Linked DNA regions of Homo sapiens. The protein of the gene in region 7 purifies or fractionates together with the protein of the main gene of each other region. This does not show direct contact. Each region holds a gene or a part of one and is shown on either strand. Other genes may lie near its edges. The genes, in order: MAPKAPK5, OPA1, COPG1, CCDC6, EIF2B3, MYCBP2 and DEPTOR.

What was found.
Region 1: the proteins of DEPTOR (region 7) and MAPKAPK5 purify together in Homo sapiens (affinity purification with mass spectrometry, with the first as the bait; one large-scale study listed by BioGRID). This does not show direct contact.
Region 2: the proteins of DEPTOR (region 7) and OPA1 purify together in Homo sapiens (affinity purification with mass spectrometry, with the first as the bait; one large-scale study listed by BioGRID). This does not show direct contact.
Region 3: the proteins of DEPTOR (region 7) and COPG1 purify together in Homo sapiens (affinity purification with mass spectrometry, with the first as the bait; one large-scale study listed by BioGRID). This does not show direct contact.
Region 4: the proteins of DEPTOR (region 7) and CCDC6 purify together in Homo sapiens (affinity purification with mass spectrometry, with the first as the bait; one large-scale study listed by BioGRID). This does not show direct contact.
Region 5: the proteins of DEPTOR (region 7) and EIF2B3 purify together in Homo sapiens (affinity purification with mass spectrometry, with the first as the bait; one large-scale study listed by BioGRID). This does not show direct contact.
Region 6: the proteins of DEPTOR (region 7) and MYCBP2 purify together in Homo sapiens (affinity purification with mass spectrometry, with the first as the bait; one large-scale study listed by BioGRID). This does not show direct contact.

The regions. Positions count from the first base shown.
Region 1 is NC_000012.12:111,887,228-111,890,727, reverse strand, and holds part of MAPKAPK5 (MAP kinase-activated protein kinase 5), read right to left. Parts: intron 2,241-3,500; coding exon 2,110-2,240; intron 1,844-2,109; coding exon 1,728-1,843; coding exon of another isoform or gene 1,722-1,727; intron 689-1,721; coding exon 584-688; intron 1-583. UniProt on the Homo sapiens protein: Tumor suppressor serine/threonine-protein kinase involved in mTORC1 signaling and post-transcriptional regulation. Phosphorylates FOXO3, ERK3/MAPK6, ERK4/MAPK4, HSP27/HSPB1, p53/TP53 and RHEB.
Region 2 is NC_000003.12:193,638,208-193,641,707, reverse strand, and holds part of OPA1 (dynamin-like GTPase OPA1, mitochondrial), read right to left. Parts: intron 1-3,500. UniProt on the Homo sapiens protein: Dynamin-related GTPase that is essential for normal mitochondrial morphology by mediating fusion of the mitochondrial inner membranes, regulating cristae morphology and maintaining respiratory chain function.
Region 3 is NC_000003.12:129,259,606-129,263,105, reverse strand, and holds part of COPG1 (coatomer subunit gamma-1), read right to left. Parts: intron 2,774-3,500; coding exon 2,706-2,773; intron 2,488-2,705; coding exon 2,299-2,487; intron 1-2,298. UniProt on the Homo sapiens protein: The coatomer is a cytosolic protein complex that binds to dilysine motifs and reversibly associates with Golgi non-clathrin-coated vesicles, which further mediate biosynthetic protein transport from the ER, via the Golgi up to the trans Golgi network.
Region 4 is NC_000010.11:59,900,057-59,903,556, forward strand, and holds part of CCDC6 (coiled-coil domain-containing protein 6), read right to left. Parts: intron 1-3,500.
Region 5 is NC_000001.11:44,854,096-44,857,595, forward strand, and holds part of EIF2B3 (translation initiation factor eIF2B subunit gamma), read right to left. Parts: intron 1-3,500. UniProt on the Homo sapiens protein: Acts as a component of the translation initiation factor 2B (eIF2B) complex, which catalyzes the exchange of GDP for GTP on the eukaryotic initiation factor 2 (eIF2) complex gamma subunit.
Region 6 is NC_000013.11:77,047,626-77,051,094, reverse strand, and holds part of MYCBP2 (E3 ubiquitin-protein ligase MYCBP2), read left to right. Parts: coding exon 1-98; intron 99-3,469. UniProt on the Homo sapiens protein: Atypical E3 ubiquitin-protein ligase which specifically mediates ubiquitination of threonine and serine residues on target proteins, instead of ubiquitinating lysine residues.
Region 7 is NC_000008.11:120,006,222-120,009,721, reverse strand, and holds part of DEPTOR (DEP domain-containing mTOR-interacting protein), read right to left. Parts: intron 2,918-3,500; coding exon 2,847-2,917; intron 694-2,846; coding exon 589-693; intron 1-588. UniProt on the Homo sapiens protein: Negative regulator of the mTORC1 and mTORC2 complexes: inhibits the protein kinase activity of MTOR, thereby inactivating both complexes. DEPTOR inhibits mTORC1 and mTORC2 to induce autophagy.

The DNA.
Region 1 (3,500 bases), on a different chromosome or scaffold from region 7:
AAAGATTGCGCCACTGCACTCCAGCCTGAGGGACAGAGTGAAACTCCGCCTCAAGAAAAACAAGGCAGTTCAAGAAATTCATCTCTACCTTATTTGCTTCGGGAAAAAAACTTAACCAGCAGTAGATTTGGCAAACTTTCTCCTCTTTCGTGAAACAGCTCTTCTCTAAGCCAAGCAGATCAGCGGGATCAGCAGGGTGGACTCGCTGGCACTTTGTCCTCTTTCTCCCCTTCAGCATCTGTTGCTTCTTAATGACCTGGTGAATAGTCCTGGTATCTGAGAGGAGTTCTGAAATTTGGGGGTTTTTTTTACCCAAGTGGTGTGTGATGGGGGCTTTCTAGTGTTGAATCTGCAATACACAATTCACTTGAACTCCGGAAAATAAGTGAAAGGGCCAGATATCCAGGTATGCCTGGGCAGTTAATGTAGAGCTAACCCCCATTCCACAATGCTCCACTCACTCTCCAGCCAGCCTCACTTCACTTCAAAACAGCCGCAGCTCAGGCCCCAAAGAGATCCTATATGTTCTAAACATAATCACTTGTCTGCATTCCTGGGGAAGGGAGTTGATGAAGGCTCCTACCATTCCAGCTGAAGCTCTGCAGAGTATCTCTTAGGAGTTTGCATTCCCGGTTATACTTCCAAGCCTCCTGCATTACTTCATTCAGTTTCTCATCTTCATTCTCTCCTATTGGTAAGGATGAAGAGGAATTTGCATTTTTCCTGCAGCATCATGGGGTTTTAGTGTGAGAGATGGAGGGACGTGATGTCCAACTGGTTGAAAAATGTTGACTGAATGTGCAAAACTTCACCAGACAAGGGCTTTACTGCTAGTCCCTACATTATGTAGACCGCATCTGGTATGTGGACTCTTTTTTACTCTGACATCTTTATACAAATCCACTGATGGCCCCAGAGTCTTAGCACCAGGGGATGGGAAATAGGCTGTGGCAGACTCTATTGCTGAACAAAAGACACCTGGTCAACCAAAGACCAAAAAGTGGGAGAGTGGGCTACTTTCTCTCCCCTAAGCTCATTTCTTACTTTAGAAAGCTATCTGAGGTACACTACATGAGTTCTCTTAAAACCCAAGGAATCTAGGGAGATAGATAGGTCAACCCAACTGTTTTCTGGCCTAGTACGTGAAGCATCTCATTTATCTGCTGAGAATAGCCCCTCACCCGCCGATGAGTGGAGAGAGAACATAACGAAAGAAAGCTCTCACTCCAAAGGACCCACGTGTAAGTCACTCTGCCCATGACATGAGTAGCAGCAGGAGCCACTTCTGAACTAAGGAGGTATTCTCTTATTTATGAGCTAATGGCAGCCTTGCACTCTAAAGGCTCTGGAAATGGTTAACAGCCTGCAATGAGATTCAGACCCTACCCACATTTTCCATTCTCCATCCCCCAACCTGTGCCCTTGTTGTCAAACTAAGAAAACACAAAATTGCATGCTTGCACCTGACACTGCCAATTAAGTCTAAACTAGAAATTCCACAGAAACAAAGGAGGGGCAGAACTTAACTGCATTTCTAAGCTCCCACTGTCCAATCTTTTTAGTGGGCATAGACTACCTTATATAATGTACTTTTCTTATAACACAAGATGAAACAGACAACCCAAAATTAAACCATTCCTTTTGCCATGTGCATGCATACACCCACCCACCCCTGCACACACACACTCACAGACACACAGAGGATTAGTAAATGGTGTGACCTTTACCAGCCTGGGGGAGAATACACTGAGCAATCACATCTCGGAGTTTTTCCAAGGCAACATTGGAATCCTCGGCTCCATTCTCATGGTCGTGGATATAGACACTGTCCTTTGGCTTGGTGCTTTAAGAGTTTGAGGGAGGGGTAATGACAACGTGAGACCCCAAAAACCAACTCTGGACAGATATTACCTCTAAACATAAGGCAACAGATGTATCAGAAAAATAACAATAGTGTCCAACTCCTGATACTATTTAAAGAACTTATCCTCTCCACCCTCTTCAGAGGCTAAAGACCCCTAGCTGAGCAAGTTAAATTTCTTAAATTTCAGAACCCAGTACTCAGCCATTCCAGCCATGAAGAAGAATCGAAGAAATAAGCTCAGTTACCCAAGTAACTTCCTCTTCCGCAGAATGGGGTTGTTCACTGAGTGCAGGGGTTTGAGGCTGACTTTCAGATCCTGGATTCTCATGTTGGCCAACTGTTCCGCGTGAGCCTGCTGGATTCCTGCAACCACTGCCTGAATGCAAACACTGCCGTCAGTTTTTCATATTCATTGCTGGGCACCTAAAAAGCCAGTCTAAGAAAGTGGAAAGGAAAAGCTCAAAGTACTAAGAAGGTAATTTCACTCTTATGCTGAAGGAATATAAATATTTTGATAAGGCAAAGGACTTTTCCCCATGGATCAACAGGAACCAGGAAACACCAGGCCAACCAAAGGTCACACAACAACTAGCCCTTCTTCCCTGGTGGGGGGACAGAAATGCGAGTAAGAAATACCAGCAGGAACCCCACTCAAAGCCACTACTGAGGGGAAGTGTAAAGAGGCACATATGGACATCAGCGGAAAGGCTGGCAGGCTGCTGCCCAAGAAGCCTTACAGACGGTATTGATTCACCTCAGCCCTGACAGCTCAGAGCCCTGACCATCTCACATGGCCAAGGCTGAGGCCACATGACCGAGGCCACAACCAGTCAAGTAATTTACAGTGAGAAATAGCTGTCATGGAGTCTGGAACTCTGGAAGTTTGTGCTTTTATGAACAGTGTATAATCTCACTACGGGCAGACGAAATCATCAGAAGGCTTCATAGGAATATGATCCCATTTTTGTATTTTTTTTTCCATTTTTGTACTTTAAAAGAAGGACAGAATGTGTGTGTGTGTGTGTGTGTGTGTGTGTGTGTGTGTGTGTATCCCAGAAAACGATCAGGAAGTATACATCAAGCCATAGATTACCTCACCTCTGAGGGGTGTGACTGTGGCAGGGAATGAAAGGGAACTTTTACTTTTTAACACGGCTGTACCACCTGAATTTTCACAACAAGAATTTTTTTGAGAGAGTCTTGCTCTGTCTCCCAGGCTGGAGTGCAGTGGTGCAGTCTTGACTCACTGCAACCTCTGCCGCTGCCAGGTTCAAGCAATTCTCCTGCCTCAACCTCCAGAGTAGCTGGGATTACAGGCGCATGCCACCACGCCCAGCTAATTTTTGTATTTTCAGTAGAGATGGGGTTTCCTCATGTTGGCCAGGCTAGTCTGGAACTCTTGACCTCAAGTGATCTGCCTGCCTCAGCCTCTCAAAACTGCTGGGATTACAGGCGTAAGCCACCATGCCTGGCCTTATCTCCTCATTTTTAAGATCTTGAGTAACCTCTATGTGCTGACAACCAGGATCTAAGTAATCCCTTTGGATTTTTGAATGACCAAACCATTTCTGGACAACAGGAAGACAACCACCCACAAATCAAAGAGAAGGCAGAGAACTGTACTTTCCAGTTCTCC
Region 2 (3,500 bases), on a different chromosome or scaffold from region 7:
ATTAGCTAAACAGGCTAAATTTAAAAACAATAAACAGCTGTTGGAAAGCTGTTTAGCTATTTTCCATCAGAGGATTTGCTGATTTGTAGCACAGGGCAAAGGCCCAAGAGAAAAACTTAAAATGTGTAGCAGTTTCACTGGGTTGAGTAGACAAGATTGGAATTCCGAGTTATTAAGTAGTCACGTCTTAAGGTGCCACAATCCCAAAGAAAAATGAACTGCAGAAATAAACCTCCAAAACAAAACAAAACCCTACATCCTGCGCACAATTTCCTTTCACGGCATTCACATTTTAGGAAACCAAGCAGAAAGAAGCTGCTAAGGAGGTTAAAATGCTAAGCTGGGGTTTTGGCACTTTCACTGCTCTAGGGAAACAAAAAACTGGAATTCAGGGTTGGTCAAGGAGAAGCTCTAGTAAACACTAAGGGACTAATGACAAACCGGAAAGAGACCAGCCTCATCTGTTTCAAGGAAACCTGTCCACACCCTGCCTGCCAAAACAAAATTAATTTCTTCTTGAAGTATCATCCACAGCTTCTACAATTAGGATGCTAGTAACAATGTAAAAGGTAGGTTTCTCTCCCATGTTTTTACAACTGATTATTGAACAGGATATGAGGTGTAGTCTGAGGTTCATTTTGTTTTTTTCTCTAGGTTAGATGTACCCCAAATTCCCATCGGTAGTAAAATGGATATGTAAAGTCTGGTACAGTCACACAGTACCACACACAGAACTAGTAACACATAACACGATTCAATCCATAGCTAGACCCACAAAAGTGCAATCTAGATGAATCACACTAGGCTGCCCATACCCTGTTGCACTTGTAAACAGATTTCATTTCTTGAAGATTTCAGCATCAGCCTCACTGTCTTTCTCCCACTATTCTTGCCATAATTCTTGGTAATTTCAATCTTCCAATTATTCTACACCTACCCCCCACCAGCTAAACATGAAAAAAACAAAACACAATCATAATGATTCATTTAAAATTTATGTCCACAGAACTTAAAGGGACTTCAGTCCACCTCAGTAATCCTAATATCACTTGACTTTCTCCACTGATTCACTCCTAGAGTCACCACGATCTGTTAACAGACTTCACTTTTTCTTCCTGCCTCAGTCTTTAATCTCTTCTCCTTTCTAATTAACAGCTGATCATCTGGCTTAGTATTTCACTGAGTAAGCGGAAGCAATCAGAAGGAAACTTCCACACGTTCCCCTTTCTTGCCTCCACTGGTGAACTCAACGACTGGTTTCTATGTTCACCTTCCTTGATGGATCAGCAGCATGTGACCTCACTGAGCACTCCCTCCTCCTCCATGTTTTCTTTTTGTTTACCTGACTTTGCGCACACTGTCCTGCTCTGCTTTCCCTCTTACTATACTGGTTGGGCCTTCACACATTCCTTTGTTATTTTCTCTTCCCTCAACATCTTAATGTTCAGAGTGCCCAGAATATACTGCTTGCTTCTGTGTTTTCTCTATCTCTACTCACTCCCTTGAAGATCTTCTCCAGTAAGATCATGACTTTAAATACTACTTTTAGATAGTTGATCATGACTCCTAAATGTATGTCTCTGGCCCACACCTCTGTCTAAACTTGTATACCCAACTGCTTGTTATCACCACTCAGCAAGTCCAAAACTGAACTCCTGATCTTCTTCCCCCAAACCTGATCCACTGACAGACTTCCATGCAAACTACATCCTTCAATTTGTTCAGGCTAAAGACCCTGGAGGCATCATTGATGATTGACACTCTCTCTCTCTCTCCCCATTGCTTTTCTTCTCTCCCCTCTCCATATCAAACCTGTCAAGAAATCCTGTTAATTCTACTTTCAAAACACATTTATAATCTATCCATTTCTTACCAGTTTCACTGCTACTTCCCTAGCCCAAGTATCACCTGGATACTCCAGTAGCCTAGACTCCCTGGTTCTACATCTTGGCTACAACTATTTTCAAAAGAGCAGCCTTTTAAAAGGCACTTTTGTTACTTTGCTCGAAATCCTGCACTGGCTTTCCATTTTACTTAAAACGGAAGTCTGTACAATGGCCTATAAGGCCTTATTGATCTGTTCCTCCCCGCTCTTCATTATTCCTCTAATGTCATCATTTGCCCCGACCATGGCTAGCTCTTCACCCCGACCTGACCACACAGGCCTCTTTGTTGTTCCTTGAACATGACAGCCACACAACCACCTCAGAGGCTTTGCATCAGCTATTCTCCTTGCTGAACACAGGATATCCTCAGGACTACTCCCTCACTTTCTGCAAATCTTGGTTCAAATGCCACCTTATCAATGCAATCTATGAATACTCTGGCACCCTCATTCTCCTTGCCTGGTTCTGCTTTTTCTTGTTGTACAACACTATTGCCTTCTAACCTACTATACAATTATGTATTATATTTATTATCTATTATCTGTCTCCCTCTACTAGAACATACCCTCCATTAAGGCAAGGTTCTTCTTTGTTGTTGCTGTTTACCAACATATTGCCTAGAATGCTACTGGTACATATTAAGCATTCCGTAAATATCTGTTCAATGAAAGACTCTGCAGCCCCATACCTTCTTCCTGTGACCCTGGAGAAATTGTCAGTGCTCCCAGATATGGACTAGTACACCAAGTCACAATCTCCTTCACCTCAGTAACTTTGCTCTTGCAATTTTCCCTCTCTCTTGCATCATTTCCCCCCTTTATTAGATCATTATAATCAGCATATAAACATCTTTAATCCTTTTCCCACTTGCTCCGACAATATTTGCCAGCACCGCTTGCAGCTGCAGCATTTGCCCCAACATAACTCTGCCATAAAATATCTTCACTTTTATGATTATTTTCACATAGCTCTAGTGTACTGACTTTGGAAACAAAAGACATTCTATTTCAAGCATTCTGTTTTTAGTAGCGGTACGTCCATTTACAAAATATAGTAATTTTCAATAGCTGAAAATGTCAAATCCTAGAAAATGCGGAATTCCTATGTGTGATGTTTACATCATTCTCAAAAAGTTGTTGGCCGAAGATTGATTTGATAAATCTGACTTTTAAAAAACAGACATTCTGATGATTGGGACGATTCTGATGTTAGTACTGTTTAGAAATAACTCTAAGAACAGTTTTTATATTTTATTTTCACATTGAAAATTAGTCAGATTTGCTTCAGCTTCAGAGAGTGTGTTTACGTAAAATTAAATGAGCACTGGTGTTGAGCTGCACTTTTTTTCTAAACAGGAAAAGGGTTAAAAACCTTCCCTTAATTCAACAATATTCAATTGCTACTGCTTCATTTCTCTGCTCTTTTGTCACAATAAAACTAGAAAATTATCTATATTCATTGACTCCACTTCCAATATTCTCATTCTCTTAACTTCTCTCTTATCTTATTCAGAATAAAATCCAAAGGCCTCCCAACTGGGTCTCTGTCATCCTCTCCTACCACTCTCCCCTCACTCAGCTCCTGCCACACTGGCCTCCTGGCTGTGCCTTCTAC
Region 3 (3,500 bases), on a different chromosome or scaffold from region 7:
TCCTCTCCTTCTGAATTACTCCAACAGTCTCTTTACCCAGTCACCCCTCCACTCTGCTCCAGAAGGACTCTTTTTTTTTTTTTTTTTTTTTGAGACGGAGTCTCGCTCTGTCTGGAGTGCAGTGGCACGATCTCGGCTTACTGCAACCTCCACCTCCAGGCCAGGTCAAGCGACTCTCCTACCTCAGCCTCCGGAGTGGCTGGGACTACAGGTGTGAGCCACTACACCAGCTAATTTTTTAATTTTTTTAGTAGAGACAGGGTTTCACCATGTTGGCCAGGCTGATCTCAAACTGCTGATCTCAAGTGATCTGCCGACCTCAGCCTCCCAAGTGCTGTGATTACAGGCATAAGCCACCGCGCCCAGCCAATTTTTTTTTTTTTCAGACAAGGTCTCACTCTGTCACCCAGGCTGGAGTGCAGTGGCATGATCATGGCTCACTGCAGCCTCGAACTCCTGGGTTCAAGTGATCCTCACACCTCAGCCTCCAGAGTAGCTGGGACTACAGGTGCGCATCACCACACATGGCTAATTTTTAAAAAAATTTTCTGTAGGCCGAGTGCGGTGGCTCACGTCTGTAATCCCAGCACTTTGGGAGGCCAAGGCGGGTTGATCATGAGGTCAGGAGATCGAGACCATCCTGGCTAACATGGTGAAACACCGTCTCTACTAAAAAATACAAAAAATTAGCTGGGCATGGTGGCGGGTGCCTCTAGTCTCAGCTACTCAGGAGGCTGAGGCAGAAGAATGGCGTGAACCCAGGAGGCGGAGCTTGCAGTGAGCTGAGGTCACACCACTGCACTCCAGCCTGAGCAACAGAGCGAGACTCCAACTCAAAAAAAAAAAAAAAAATTTGTAGAGATGAGGTCTTGCTACATTGCCCAGACTGGTCTCAAAATTCAGGCCTCAAGTGATCCTCCCTCCTTGGCCTCCCAAAGCACTGAGACTACAAGCATGAGCCACCGTGCCCAGACCCAGAAGGATCTAATATGCAAATCTCACTGTGTCATTTCAGCCTGCAAAGCATTCTTGTAACCCACAGGCAGAGTAGACTGCTGCCTACTTTGCATAATCCACACTATAGAATTTACCACAATATATTATTCATATTATTGTTTGCTCTGATTAAAACTCTCCGGTGACATACTTCATTGTTCTATCAATTAACAATTGTGAAATAACAGAATTACAGAAATTGAGAACAAATTAATGGCTGCCAGGGGTTAGGGAATAGAGAGGTAGGAATGGGCCTGACTATGAAGAGGTAACAAGAGTCTTGTGGAGATGGATAGTTGAGTGTCTTCACTGTGGTGGCAATTTTGAAAGTCTCCACATGACATCTTGCATAGAACTTCACATATATACACACAGGAGTTGCCTGTGTAGCTGGTGAAATCTGAATGAGCTCTATGGGTCATGCCAGTGTCACTTTCCTGGTTGACATTGTCCTGTGCTAGTGTAGGATGCTGGCACTGTAGGAGAGGGTTGATGGAGGGGTGCATAGGACTTCTCAGTATATTTCTTTGTAACTTCCTATGAATTATTTCAAAATATAAGCTCAAAAAATATTCACATCCTTCCTCCTGCCCCAAAAGAACACCTTTCCAATGTCTTCCTTGCAATTAAAACTCTTTACCTGACCATGGGCCTTACATGATTGAGCCCTGTCTATTCTGACTTTGTCACCTGCACTGGCCCCACAGCTCTTCCACCCACTGGCCTTCTCTCTCCTTGACTTGCTCCTGCCTTTCCTCCTGGTTCTTTGCACTGATTCAGGTTTGAGCTCAAATGTCACCCTCCAGAAGGGCCTTCCCAGACTGTGCTCTTCCTAGGATCATCCCTGCTGTATTTCTACACTCTTGACTGCAGTACCCATGCCTGAGATGATCTCGTCTACTCCTTTCTTTACCTGTTTACTGTTCCTCTCCCATCCCTAGAAAGGAAGCTCCAGGAGGGCAGTCACCTGCTTTGTTCACTGCTATGTTCCCCTTTTGTCACTCTACATAGCAGACAGCAAGTGCTCAAGAAATACTTGGACAACAAATCAATGAACCCTTAACTGGCCTGGAAACTACTGTTCTTTCAGTACAAGGGGACGATATGGATGGAGGCCTGGAGGCAGGACTACGCACATTTCTCGGAAGGCCAAGTCTCTGCAGAGCAAACTGCTGGCCTCCTCTGAGTCCTCAAGGCTGACCAGCCCCTCAGGTCAGTCCTGGCAGGAAGGCTGTGGCCACAGAGAGCAGGGACAGAGCTCCTTCCTCTGGGGGCCGTGGGTGTCCTGGGGGTAGCAGGTACCTTGAATTCATCCGAGATTTCTGACATGAAGGAGGAGATCTGCTTCATGAGGCGGTCGATGCTGCTCTCGCTGCCCGTCTTAAGGAGGGTGGTGATGGCCAGCGTGGCAATGCTGCGGTTTGAATCTGTGACCAGGTTCTCCAGATCCAGATTACAAGCTGTCACAGCTGACGGATGCTTCATGGCAACCTGTTTTGGGAGGACAGTGACAGAGAGGGCAGGAACCCAATGCTGTCACTACATTTGATGGTTTGGCCCAGTCAGAAGTCCTTTGGATGAGATCATCTCACCATCTAGAAGAAACTAACTGTGACCAGGGCTATTATCCTTCCCAGCCAGGTCAGAGGCTAGGACACACCTCCAGTTGGATCAGACAGCTTCCTCCAACCCCCAAGCTGGACTCTTACCTTATTGAGGGTACGAACAGCAGCATAGCGGAGAGCAGCCTTGGGTGAGCTGCAGAAAAGCTGGAGCACTGTGGGGAGATGGATGCCACATGTCAGGTTGCCTTCACTGCTGGGCAGCTGGGAAAACCGGGGGCTACTGTTCTGACTCAAACCCTCTGCTCAGCTCATTTCCCTGCTGACACCCCCATCCCAACCCAAGACACAGAGCTCCCCTCACCCTGCGCACCTGAGCCATGGACAGAGGCCATAATGTCTGTGAGCACCCAGGGGTTCCAGTGAGGGCTGTTATTCACTGGGCATCTGCTGTGTGCCAGGTGCTGTGCTATACAGTGGACATGCCTCACTTCTATAGCTTGCAGCCACCACTAGCCCACTTTACAGATAAGGAGACTGAGGCACAAAGGGGAAAGCAAACAAACTTTAGGTTGGCAGCCAGTAAGTGGCAGAACCAAGATTAAATTCCAAGACTGCCTGCACCTGCAGCCTAAGCCCTTAACCTCTGTGAAGTAATATTCCACTCCTCTCTCCTACTGTGTCTACAGGATCCAACAGAACTTCCCCCTTGGCACCAAGTGCTGAAGAACAAAGTCCTCTCTTAAACAAATGGTTTATTTCCTTTAACTAGATGAGAGCCATTCGGGTACCATATCCCTCCCTTGCCCTGGCTGCCCGGAAGCTCAGAGCTAAATTTGGCACTCAATCATAGGAGCGAAGATGACTACTGTTTTCTGGAATATCTATGTTCCTTTCTTCATAACTTGGCTTTTATTCTCTAATACTCAAAAAAAATTTTTC
Region 4 (3,500 bases), on a different chromosome or scaffold from region 7:
TGCCTCTGGAGCCAGCTCAACAAATTTCTGGGTGTTTCTCACATGCCAAGCACTGAGGAATGTGATGAACAAGGCAAATTCTGCCCCCAAAGAAATTTACACATGAACCGGGAAAGATCTCGATAGTCGAGTGTCAGTGACGTGGGGTGGGGGGGGTGGTGTCTATGGAACCACGGAAGTAGGTGCATACCCCAGTAGCAGGTGCATACCCCGGTGTGTGGCTGACAAAGAGGAAGTATCAGGGCATACCAGGAAGGGGTTCAGGTGGAGAAGGCAGTACAGTCTATTTCAACTGACAAGGTAGAAAAGAGGGGAGGAATACAGAAGAACATTTAAGGGGACGAGCGGCACCATTGAGGAGCCAGAGGAAATCTACTGAAGTTCTGGGTGCTAGTAGTAAAGGAGTGATGTGAGAGCTTAGAGAATGCACACTGGGCTAAACGCATGTAAGAGGTGTGGCTGTGAAGCAAGCAGGGCATTCCAATCATGCAGAGCCTGGTAAACCACCAGAAGGTTCACCTGGATCCAAGGACAATGGGGAGTCATTCAATATGTTTAAGCAAGCAATGGCTACCTTCAATTTTTGCTGTAGACCAGCCTCTCTGGTCCTGAACAAGAGTCACCACAAACCAGATACTGTGAATTCTCTAATGATTCCCCATCTCTAGCAAATAGGAAGCACTGTAAAAGACTGTCATGACCTTTAAAATTTCAGCTTTTGGCTGGGCATGGTAGCTCACACCTGTAATCCTAGCACTTTGGGAGGCAGAGGTGGGTGGATCACTTTAGGCCAGGAGTTCTGAGACCAGCCTGGACAACATGGTAAACACCACCTCCACTAAAAATACAAAACTAGGTGGGCATGGTGGCGCATGCCTGTAGTCCCAGCTAGTAGGGAGGCTGAGGCATGAGAATCACTTGAACCTGGGGGGCAGAGGTTGCAGTGAACTGAGATCGCACCACTGCACTCCAGTCTGGGTAATAAAGCTGTCACACACACACAAAAAAAACAAACGGTTTTTAAAAATTAAGTACAAATAGAGTATATGAAACACATAGAAGATACTTACAAATGTGAAAAAACTCGTAAATGCTGAAGAAATAGGAGAATGGCCTCTTTAAGAAGACTTGTGTACAGTTAGACCTAACTGTGAGGTCATATTTTCCTCAAAGTTGTGTCTAAAGTTGTGTGTTTCCATAAGAATCTAAGAAATACTTTTCTAAACGGGGGGAAAAAAGACATCACACTCTCATCGTCACATTTATAAAGGCAATATCGATTTGTAGCTTCAGAGTCTGACAAAAGTCTTAAAAATTGAAAATAACATATTAGACTTCCAGAGTAAATAATCCAAAATATACAACATCAACTATATGGCAGATTTTATTGGTTAATGAAACCATTACACTGTTGATGTTTAAAATAGCCAGGTTTTCTAATCATGCCAGACCAACATATTTTTCTATTATAACTTCAAAACACCTTGTACTTCTGTATTTCCCTTAACTTCTACAATAAAGGATTAATTTTACAGTCAGAGAGACACTTAAATATCAGTGATTTATTATAGGCCTTGATTTCCAAACCAAACACATACCAAAGGTCTGAAACTGCCTGGAAGAGGTACACACCCTAGAGAACCACCTGAGGCCCTGCTTATACACGGAGAATGCCAGCAACTAGCTGAGAACTTTGAAGCCATCCAATTACTGCCCACAATTGCATTTCCTCACCTTCTCTAAGACCACCACCCCACAATAACCCTCACTACACTGAATCATATAATCCACAATCACATTCTCACTCATAGGACAAACCAACAGATCTGGCCTAACATACAAAAGCTACTCAAAAAGGTGACTATGCATTTGTTTATTTCCCCTACTCCAAAAAAAAGAAATTATGATCTGTAATCAGTAGCCTGATTCCCCTGCTGACTTCATGGGGAAAATTGAATAATCACTCAAAATATTCTATTCCACTTTTAAGCCCCAAATAAAATGGCCTAGGGCAGGCTATAACTCACAGGTGCACTGGGCGCTTGTGGACACGACTGAAAGACTGCTTACTGTTGATTGTCTCCCACAGATGATGTTTACCACTATTATACAGATACTGAGAACACAGGCCCATGAAACTAGTCGTTCATTAAATGGGTAGTTTGACCAGAATAGCCGCTTACATACCAGAAGAGACCATTGGTTAAGAGCTTCTATTAGCCTTTGGACTTGGCTTTAAAAAGGGCATAACAGAGATATTACTATACACCTATTGGAATGGTCAAAATCTAGAACACTGACTACAGCAAATGTTGGTGAGCAACAGTAACTCTTTTTTTTTTTTTTTTTTTTTTTGAGATGAAGTCTGGCTCTGTCACCCAGACTGGAGTGCAGTGGTGCGACATTGGCTCACTGCAACCTCCACCTCCTGGGTTCACGCCATTCTCCTGCCTCAGCCTCCAAAGAGGCTGGGATTACAGGCATGCAACACCATCCCCAGCTAATTTTTCTGTATTTTTTTCAGTAGAGATGGGGTTTCACCATGTTGGCCAGGCTGGTCTCGAACTCTTGACCTGAGGTGATCCGCCTGCCTTGGCCTCCCCAAAGTGCTGGGATTACAGGCATGAGCCACCGCGCCCGGCCCCGCCAAAGCAACTCTTATTCACTGTTGGTGGGAATGAAAAACGATGCAGCCACTTTGGAAGACAGTTTGGCAATTTCTTATAAAACTAAACATACTCTTACCATATAATTCAGCAATCATGCTCTTTGGAATTTACCCAAATGAACTGATATCTTTCCAGACAAAACCCTTCATATGAATATTTCCAGCAGCTTTATTCATAATTGCCAAAAGGTGGAAACAACCAAGATGCCCTACAGGAGGTGAAGAGATAAATTATGATACATCCAAACAATGAAATACTATTTAACTCTGAACAGAAAACAAGATATAGGAGTTGGGGAACATGGAAGAAACTTAAATGCATTTACTAAGTGAAAAGTCTGCATACTGTATGATTCCAACTATATGACATTCTGGAAAAGGCAAAACTAAGGAGAGAGTAAAAAAAATCAGTGGTTGCCAGGAGTTTGCAGGGAGGGAAAGATGAACAGAGCGTGGAAGACTTCCAGGGCAGAAAAACTCTGCGTAATACTATAATGGTGGACACATGTCATTATACATTTGTCTAAACTCATAGAATATACAAGACCAAGTAAACTCTAGACTTTGGGTGATAATGATGTATCAACGTAGGTTCACTGACTATAACAAATGGACCACTATGATGAAAGATGTTGATGGTGGAGGAGGCTGTGCCCGTGTGAAGGCAGGGGTTACGTGGGAAATCTCTGTACTTTATGTTCAGTGTTACGTGAAGATAAAAGTGCTCTAAAAAAATAAAGTCTATTAAAAAACAAAACAAGTCGGGGGAAAAAAAGAGCCCGGCTCTTCCCCAGGGTGTGGCAAAAAGGCAATGTGTCTTCCTGAACTTGCT
Region 5 (3,500 bases), on a different chromosome or scaffold from region 7:
AGGTTCAAGTGATTCTCCTGCCTCAGCCTCCCAAGTAGCTGGGATTACAGGTGTGTGCCATCACACACAGCTAATTTTTGTATTTTTAGTAGAGATGAGGTTTCACCATGTTGGCTGGGCTGGTCTCGAACTCTTGACCTCAAGTGATCCACTCGCCTTGGTCTCCCAAAGTGCTGGGATTACAGGCGTGAGCTACAGCCTCTGTACCCAGCCATTTTTTAGGTTTTGACTGTTAGCTGTAGCCATTCTACTGCTTGAGAAGGTCAAATTTGGCTGCCAGTATTTTTGCCAGAGATAACCAATGAGAGTATTGGGATGGGGTGAGAAAAGTCAGAGTTGTTATAAAATGGCTTGTTTTCGTGTTGGTGCTAGAAGAGGGTAGGGAGGCCTACACTGAGTTACGAGCCATACTTTTGGGGAAAAAGACTGCTATGGATGTGGTGACTCTGGAGCATGAAAATGATTAGAATTTGGAGAGGAGACTGCATTATGTCTTTTTTTTTTTTTTTGAGATGGAGTTTCGCTCTTGTTGCCCAAGATGGAGTGTGATGGCGTGATCTCAGCTCACCACAACCTCTGCCTTCCAGGTTCAGGCAATTCTTCTGCCTCAGCCTTCCAAGTAGCTGGGATTACAGGCATGCACTACCACGCCCGGCTAATTTTTTGTATTTTTAGTAGAGATGGGGTTTCTCCATGTTGGTCAGGCTGGTCTCGAACTCTTGACCACAGGGATCCACCCGCCTCAGCCTCCCAAAGTGCTGGGATTACAGGCATGAGCCACCGCATCCGGCTGAGACTGCATTATTTCTTAGGATGAATGTTTTTTCCTGAAACCCCTTCATGTGAGGAAGACTGACGGAAGACTTTGCCATCTATTGAGCTCTTTGCTGGTAAGGATGTGAGTTGTTGGTGTTTGCCTAGGTCACCTATAGTAACAAGTCTTGAGTGCTGCACTGATGGTTAGGAGTTTGCTTTCACCATACGGCTCAGTCTCAAAAAAAAAAAAAAAAGAAGAAGTAATAGTGGAAAAAGGCAACTGGCCAGGGAGTTCCTGTGGCAGGAGGGCACTGACCACTGTGCTGGATGCACTGGTCCTTCCAGCAGAGGACAGAGAGAAGGAAGTGGTGGGGTTGTCCAGTTTAGAGCCCAGACAAGATGACTTCCCTGGCCAGCCCTCCTTCAGCAGGACCATTAAAGGGTCTCCTTGCTAAAAGGTGGACACATAGTGTTAATTAAAGCCAGAAAGCCCAGGAGTTTATGAAGCCCATCTCATGATGATTGCAACCATCGCACAGAGGCCTTTCTTGGAACCCTAACTTTATACCCTGAAATCCCCCAAAATATGTTTCATGGATCCAACATTCATTCATTCACTCTTTTCCCCTTCTGAGCATTTACCATAAATCAGGACCTGTTCTGAGAGCTAGGGATGCATATAGTTATGAGACAATCGACCTTGAGGATCTTTTTTTTTTTTTTGAGATGGAGTCTTGCTCTGTCACCCAGACTGGAGTGTAGTGGTGCAGTCTCAGCTCACTGCAGCCTCCGCCTCCTGGGTTCCAGCAATTCTCCTGCCTCAACCTCCCAGGTAGCTGGGATTACAGGCATGCACTACCACACTTGGCTATTTTTTGTATTTTTAGTAGAGACGGGGTTTCACCATGTTGGTCAGGCTGGTTTCGAACTCCTGACCTCAGGTGATCCGCCCACTTCGGCCTCCCAAAGTGCTAGGATTACAGGTGTGAGCCATCATGCCCAGCTGACCTTGAGGATCTTAGTAGGGAAGGCTGATTCACGGATAATTGCCATGGCTTGTGAAACATACTTTAATAAAGGTGTGGCAAAGCTCAAGGACACAGTGGAAGGAATGTGTAGTTCTGCTATGGGGAGTCATGGGAAGAGGCAGAGAAGGTTCTACAAAGGAGAAAACACTTGGTCGGAGTCTTCAAGAGAGGAAATCTAGAGAGAGCACATGTAAAAGCATGGAGAGGTATAATGGCACGGTATGTATGAGGAATTCTAAGTCTTTTGGTACACTCAAGGAGTAGTGCATATACCTGTCATTTAATTATATGTAATTCTCACAATTCTCCAAGGTAGCTATTATTGTCCCAATTGTCTAATTAAGAAAATCTGGGGCTGGGCGCAGTGGCTCATACCTGTAATCTCAGCACTTTGGGAAAGTGAGGTGGGTGGCTTGCTTGAGGCCAGGAGTTCAAGACCAGCCTGGGTGACATTGCAAAACCCTGTCTCTACTAAAAACACAAAAATTAGCCAAGGGTGGTGGTGTGCCCCTGTAGTCTCAGCTGCCCGGGAGGCTGAGGCACAAGAACCACCTGGATCCAGGAGGAGGAGGCTGCAGTGAGCTGAGATAGCACTACTGTACTCCAGCCTAGGCGACAGAGCAAGACTCTGTCTCAAAAAATTAAAATTAAAAAAAAAAAAAAAAAAAAGGAAAATCTGAGGGCTTAATGATTAAAAATTTCACTTGGTGCACAGCCACTAAGTTGAGTTGAGATGTGAACTGAGGTCTGTTTGATTCTAAAGCCCAAAAGGAAGGCATATGACTTTAAAAAAGGGAAGGGGGAAGAAACTGAAGAAGGAAATGATGTGGCGTCTACAGAGTTGGTGGGGTTAATTCCTTCAGCAACTCCCCTCCCCACCTTATTTTAGGTTTAGGAATAATACCAAAAGCAATCAGTCATTTTAATTTTTATTATTATTTTTAAGACAGGGTCTCCCTCTGTCACCCAGGCTAGAGTGCAGTGGTGCGATCTCAGCTCACTGCAGCCTTGACCTCTCAGGCTCAAGCAATCCTCCTGCCTCAGCCTCTTGAGTAGCTGGGACAACACGTGTGTGCCACTGTGCCTGGCTAATTTTTAATTTTTTTGTAGAGATGGGTTCCTGCTATGTTGTCTAGGCTCAAGCGATCCTCACATTTCAGCCTCCCAAAGTGTTGGGATTATTGGCATGAACCACTGTGCCTAGGCTTCAAGAATCACTGTACAGTATTGGTGCCAACCTGGGCCATTAGATCTATTGATATGTTTTCAAGGTTTTGAGATTAAGGGTGCATACATGTATAAGCTTATCTATAAGATTAATTTCTAGAAATGAAACTGTTAAGTCAAAGTAAAAAAATTTGACAGTGATGCCAGGTGCGGTGGCTTACGCCTGTAATCCCAGCACTTTGGGAGGCTGAGGTGGGCAGTTCTCCTGAGGTCGGGAGTTCGCAACCAGCCTGACCAACATGGAGAAACGCCATCTCTACTAAAAATACAAAAAATTAGCTGGGCGTGGTGGCACATGCCTGTAATTCCAGCGACTCAGGAGACTGAGGCAGAAGAATCGCTTGAACCCGGGAGGCGGAGGTTTCAGTGAGCTGAGATTGCACCATTGCACACCAGCCTGGGCAACAAGAGTGAAACTCCGAAAAAAAAAAAAAAATTGACAGTGATGTCAACTGCTCTCCAAAGATGGCTTTATCAATTTATGTTCTC
Region 6 (3,469 bases), on a different chromosome or scaffold from region 7:
TTTCTGTTTTGGAACAACACATTTTTGTAATGCTTGTCATGATGATTTTCAAAGAATGACTAGCATTCCTAAGGAAGAACTACCACACTGTCCTGCAGGTATGCTTTTAATATTTTAAAATCACGATTATGATCTATATACCATAGTTTTATGTAAACATTATATGAAAGCTCTGTTTCAAGTGACAGAAACTCAATTCAAACTAGCCTAAAGAAGCAGGAGGAATTCCTTGATCCTTGTAAGCTTATGACTTTCTGGGTGAATTAGGAAGCAGGCTCATCATCATGAGTGAGAAGTTAGCTGTGACGGAGCAGATCTCATGGGGAGTGAGAATGAAGTCTACTAAGGATTGGTGAAAAGATGGCTGTTCAGCACTAAAAAGTCATATGAAGTTCAATATTACAGAACCATTTAAAAGGATTCTGTGATTTTTTTTTTTTTTTAACGAAGCCTGGAACCGTTGCCATAAAATGAACCAAGTGATTTAATCTAGAATGGCTGGGAATCAGTAGTGTAGTGAGCATCAGAAAGTCAAGGGAATTAAAGAAACCACTCAGAATACAGGAGAAATTATTGTCTATGGAAAGCAGGCTGAGGGGAAAGAAGTATGAAACCAAAAAGAAGCTGAAAATACTGGAAGAGGACAGGAGGCTAGTGGCAACGGTGAGGTGGAATACCAGGCTTCACGGAAGTGAGAGAAGTGGAAGGAGAGGTCCGTGCAACCATAGGAGAGAATTTTACATAAGATATATCTGAAATTAGTGAAAATACATGCACAAGTACATACAACACAATATACCGTGTTGTCAAAGCTAGAAAACACACACTGCCATCTGCTGCCTATCAGAGTGCAAGTGATAGACCTCTCCGGAAAACAGCTTAATAGTGCCTCTCAAAATTACCAGCGTATCAACCCTTCAGCACTCCCTCTTCAGGGATATAGCTACAAATGTGAGGACAGTAAAAAAGGGCAAATAAACAAGGTTATTAACTACAGCTTTGCTATGATAATAAAAATGTATAAACAATGCTAGTGTCCAGTAGGGTAGTGGCTAATATTACGCATCAGTTTAAAAAAAAAAAAGAGTGAGGATGGTGTTTCTGTGTGCTGATTTGGAAAGATCTTCAGGAGATAGCATCAGATGAAAAAAGTAAATTAGGCCAAGTGGTGTGACTGACACCTGTAATCCCAGCACTATGGGAGACCGAAGCAGGTGGATCACTTGAGGTCAGGAGTACGAGACCAGCCTGGCCAACATGGTGAAACCCCATCTCTACTAAATGTACAAAAATTAGCCAGGCATGGTGGCGGGTACCTGTAATCCGAGCTACTCACGAGGCTGAGGCCAGAGAATCACTTGAGCCTGAGAGGCGGAGGTTGCAGTGAGCCAAGATTGCGCCACTGCACTCCAGCCTGGGCGACAGAGCTGTTTCAAAAAAAAAAAGCAAATTGCAGAACAGAGTATGCAGTATGCTGCCTTTTGTAAGAGGGAAAATGAGACTATCTAGTCATATTTGTTTATATTTACATAAAGAAACCCCTGGAAAGATACTCAAGAAACTAATACTATTGATTAACTATTGGGAAAAGCAAGAAAAAGATGAGGGTAGAGACTAGGGAAAGTTGCTTCCAATTGTGTTATCATTTTTAACATTTTGATTTTAAACCATGTGAAACATATACTATCCATTTCAAAATAAAGATAAGTAGGGTTTTTTCAAGTATGACTACTTTTTACCATTTGCTCATGTCAAATAAAAATTGTTTTACTGTTTCTCCTCAAATACTGTTTTTTTTTAATAGAAGTAGCAGGCTTTGAAAGAAGCAAGGCCAGAATGATGTGAAGCCAGGTTATGGAGGATAATGGACAGAACAGAGATGTGAGCCATGCTTGGAGGGAGGGGGTGATGTGCTGGAGGTCAGCAAGTGAAGGGAGTGTGGAAAGGGCAGTATTCTAGATGACTCTAGATGACTTGAGCTTGGAGGAAGGGCAATTATTGAATGAAAGTTGTAGGTTGTGGTCTGGAAAGAAATAGGAGCCAAGAGAAAAATCAGTCACACGTTGTAGCCATATGACCTGGAGGAGCTTGGGAGATAACCAGCCTCCAGTTGAGAAAGATTTAAGGCAAGCAGTATCTTCAGGGGAAATCTAGATTTTACTTAAAGTTTCCTCTATGTTAAAAAACAGAAATAAGAATGCTAAAAATAAGGAAGTTAACAATGAAACACTTTAGAGAACTCAGTGGTGGGTAGTAGCTGAGAGAGGAGGGTCAGGTTTCCTCACAGGATCAGGGCAGCCAACACAAAGGAATCACAGGAGGGAGGCGGGGGAGGAGCCAGAGTTGGCAGAAGGAAGGAATGACCTCGGTCCTGGGCATTTTCACACATATTTGCTCCATTTTTACAATCTGCGAGTAGATGGTATTATCCCTATGTTATCAAATGGAAAATTGAGGGCTAGGGAGGTTAATGAACTGGCCTAAGAACATACACTGAGATTGAGGTATACTCTCCCAGCCTCACACATCCCTCTAACTCATCCATTCATTTAGAGAACTGGAATAGAATAAAGGAGATCCCACAGGGATGTGAGTAGGGAAGATGGCCATATACAGTTTACTTAGAAGGACAGAAGAAGCAATTCTCTAACCACTCTCAACCCTGTTAATTCTAATATTTTTAGATAATCAGTCTTCATCCATTCAAGCTGCTATAACAAAATACTGTAAACTGGGTAGCTTATAAACAGTGGAAATTTATTCTCACAGTTCTGGAGACCAGGAAGTCTAAGATCTAGGAATTAGCAGTCGAGGTGTCTGGTGAGGACCCACTCTCAGCCTCATAGGTGGCACTTTCTTGCTGTCGTGGAAGGGCAGGGGGCCTCTCCTGGGTCTCATTGATAGGAAGAGCACTAATCCCATTCATGGATTCCACCCCATGACCTCATCACCTCCCACAGCTCCACCTCCTAACACCATAACATTGGTGTTAATGTTGTAGTCTCAGCAGTGCACCAAGATATAACAGTCTCTCATTGTCTGAGATAATGCCAGGAGTTCTTTGTCCTACCTCCAAGAAGATTAAGGAGCACAGATACAAAGGTGAGGTTAGAGCGAAAGTTTAATAAGCAAAAGAAGAAAGCTCTCTGCCAGCAGAGAGGGGGGCCCAAACAGGATGCTCCCGTGAGGCTGGGGCCCAGGGTTTTTATGGACTGGAAAGGGGAAGGAATGTGCTTAGTCTGTGGGCTGTCTTGGCCCGCAGCGTGACTCAGCTTGGCCCGGGACCCTGGCCCAGGAACCCACTGGAGCCCACTGTGCCTATGCCCACAAAAGGAGAGAGCCCCCTGACTATACAAAGGACAAAGGCATTTCTATCCCAGGTCTTGTCCTTTATCTGATTGAAGGTTTTTCTGTCTGTGCAGCCGTGGGCATGTCTTTAGGCACAATGCCCTGTGCTAGTTCCCTCATC
Region 7 (3,500 bases):
GGAGAAAAAGTACACATGGCACCAAATAATGAAATTAAGCTAGAGGTATTTAGACACTGCTAAATGTTGTTTTGTTGTTGTTGTTGTTGTTTTGTTTTGTTTTGTTTTAGAGACAGAGTCTCGCTTTGTCACCCAGGCTGGAGTGCAGTGGTGCGATCTTGGCTCACTACAACTTCTGCCTCCTGGGTTCAAGCGATTCTCCTGCCTCAGCCTCCTGAGTAGCTGGGATTACAGGTGTGTGCCACCACGCCCGGCTAATTTTTGTATTTTTAGTAGGGATAGGGTTTCGCCACGGTGGCCAGGCTAGTCTTGAACTCCTGACCTCAAGTGATATGTCTGCCTTGGCCTCTGAATGTGCTGGAATTACAGGTGTGAGCCACCGCGCCTGGCTAGACACTTCTAAATGTTTATTAGAGGAGAGGGAAGACCCAGGGAAAGGTTAAAGACTTTGGAGAACAAGAAAGAGAGGGCAGAAATAGAAAAGGACACAAAATAAGATGGGTTTGGATCCCTAGTAAGAATCATGGCCAATTTAGCATGAAGAACCCAAGACAGATATAAAAGAGGGTGAGAAAGACCCGTTAGTACCTTCATTCCTGCTGCGGCTGCAGGGCCACTGGGGTCTACAGCCTGGATGTGGCATGGCTTACTTCCTCGCACCACAAAACCCCAGCCAACCGCGTCACCAACAATCTAGAGAGGAAAACCACAATTAGCAAGCAGCCGACTGTCTCCGGCAATTTGCTTATTCTTCTGAGGGAGAGAAAACCAGCCCAGGATTAAGTATACACTGTGACATATTTTCCTCCGTTTCTCTCTTCCCTGCCAGGGGATTGGAACACTGCTTCTATCACAAACCCGGGCATCTCCCTGTAGAAAAGGTGGTAAAAAAAATCTAACCTGTTTGGCAGAAAGAAGATGCTCCCATGAGGGCATGATTCAATAAACAACTGGAAGATTTTCTCTTTCTTAGGCTGTTATACAATTTAATGTCAGACTCCAATAGAAGGTTTAGAAAAAGTCGTAACGTGGTTGAAATGTCTCTCCAGATACAATTTCTGCTCTAAGTTTGTTCTTTTCCCCAGTATCCAAATGATACACTCTTGATCCTGCAACGTCATTGAAGTCTAGCATAATTATTGAAATTACTAATGGTGGGAAATAAAGAGACCTGGCTTTTTTTTTTTTTTTTTTGAGACAGAGTCTTGCTCTGTCACCCAGGCTGGAGTGCAGTAGTGCAATCTCAGCTCACTGCAACCCCACCTCCCGGGTTCAAGCGATTCTCCTGCCTCAGCCTCCTGAGTAACTGGGATTACAGGCATGCAACACCATGCCTGGCTAATTTTGTGTATTTTTAGTAGAGACAGGGTTTCACCATGATGGTCAGGCTGGTCTCGAACTCCTGAGCTCAGGTGATCCACCTGCCTCAGCCTCCAAAGTGCTGGGATTACAGGCGTGAGCCACCATGCCCAGCCTCCACCAAGGGAGCCCTCCACCAAGGGCTCCACCATGCCCCTTTCTCCACCAAGGGGGGAAAAGAAGTGAAAAAGTACATAAAGTTCACAATGTACAAGTAGACTCTAATCCAAAAGTTGTTTGGAATTAGAGAAGGCCTTTTCTATAGAAATCATTATTAGAGCTGGCAGTTTAATTCCCTGGACAGCTCCTAGCCACATCTTTCACACATATCCCAACCAAAACACAGCTGAAACACATTCACAATCAATTACTAACAATGTTGGCATTTAAATTAAAAATCAAAAATAAATACTTTCAAAATAACAATCTACCTCTCTTGAATGCTGGAGACTGAGGAAAAACAGGGAGGCAAATGAAAATTTTTGTGGAAATGCTCAAGATTTTCAGGCACTTCCGTTACTTTACAGTTTGCTGTTATTTGTATATTATACTCAATTTCACTTCCGAAGGTGGAGTTTATCTTTTCCTCTGGTACAGACATGTTGTCAGCGCCTTTCTCCTATTAACTCCTCAGCATTCAGAATGTGAAATAGCCCTCAGCAAATGTTTGCAGCATGACTGAGTGTGGATAGAATTCTCCCCCAGCCTGAGGCAATGCCACTAAAGTTAGAAGATGAAGGAGGAGAAGTGTTTTGAAGAGGGTATGAACGTGAATTTGAGGAGATTGACAGAAGGAGACACAGGAAGGGGAGTGGGTGCGGTGATGCTGAAAAGAGCACTTTCATTCCATTTGAAGAAATCCAACGTAGGCATTAGGAACCTAAAGGACCTCCAAGAAGGGGCAGGTGGTCCGGAGCTGCTCACAGCAAGTCAGAGGCTCGTGTACCTCAAGGCATGCACACATTGTCGAAGCACCCTGCCTACGGTAGAAAAGTTTATCCCACAGTTTCCTTTCTCTAGCTTAACACTCCCCTAATGTTTTAAATAATTTCTAGAATTAATCCTAATGCAGAAGGGATTATTGGCATCATTTGCACTTCCATTTGCCATAAAATCTAATAATAATTTAAATGACTAATGGTGGGAAATAAAATCTAAAATTATTAGATTTTAAGGTAAATGCAAGTGCAAATGATGCCAATCTTGAAATTTGCAATTAAATTAGAATAAATGCATAATGGAAATCTTTTCTTTAACAAAGAACACATCAAAAAATTTTTAAATGGTATATTAATAATAACGCATGTGAAGTCCTAATGCACCTTAGTGCCTTGAGGTCAAGAAAGCCTAGTATCATAATTACGCTAAAAACAAAAAGAAAATTAGAAAAGTAGTTTTCATTTCAGTCTATAAGCTACCCATTGACACATGGACACGGTGCAGAAAAATGGGCAGCACGGGAGAAAAAGGCCAGACCATCAGCCTACCGTGAATGTCTTCCTTGCATACGGAGCCCCGGGAGTAAGGAGTTCCTCAGAGGTGACAGGTCTCTTCAGCACTGGCAGACAAACACAATGTCAAGACATAAGCACTTCCAAGTCCTCTATCCATGCATTCAGCAGCTATTTATTGATATCTCGTAGGTGACCATCAGTGAGAAAAAGTGGCAAAGATCCCTGCCTCACAGTTTATATTTTAGCTGAATGGAGACAGTAAATAGCAGCAAACATAAATAACCCTAAACCTACCTTACAAAGCTAAGGAAAAAAAGAAAGAGAAGGAAAGCAAGAGTGCCAGGGGTGGGGATAAGGGGGCAGGTCAATTTTTTTTTTTTTTTAAAGACGGAGTTTTGCCCTTGTCACCCAGGATGGAGTGCAATGATGCGATCTCGGCTCACTGCAACCTCCGCCTCCTGGGTTCAAGCAATTCTCCTGCCTCAGCCTCCTGAGTAGCTGGGATTACAGGCACCCAACACCATATCTGGCTAATTTTTGTATTTTTAATAGAGACAGGGTTTCACCATGTTGGCCAGGCTGGTCTTGAACTCGTGACCTCAGGCAATCTGCCTGCCTCAGCCTCCCAAAGTGCTGGGATTACACGCATGAGCCGCCCAGCCTCACTTCCTTCTTAACACCTAGGAC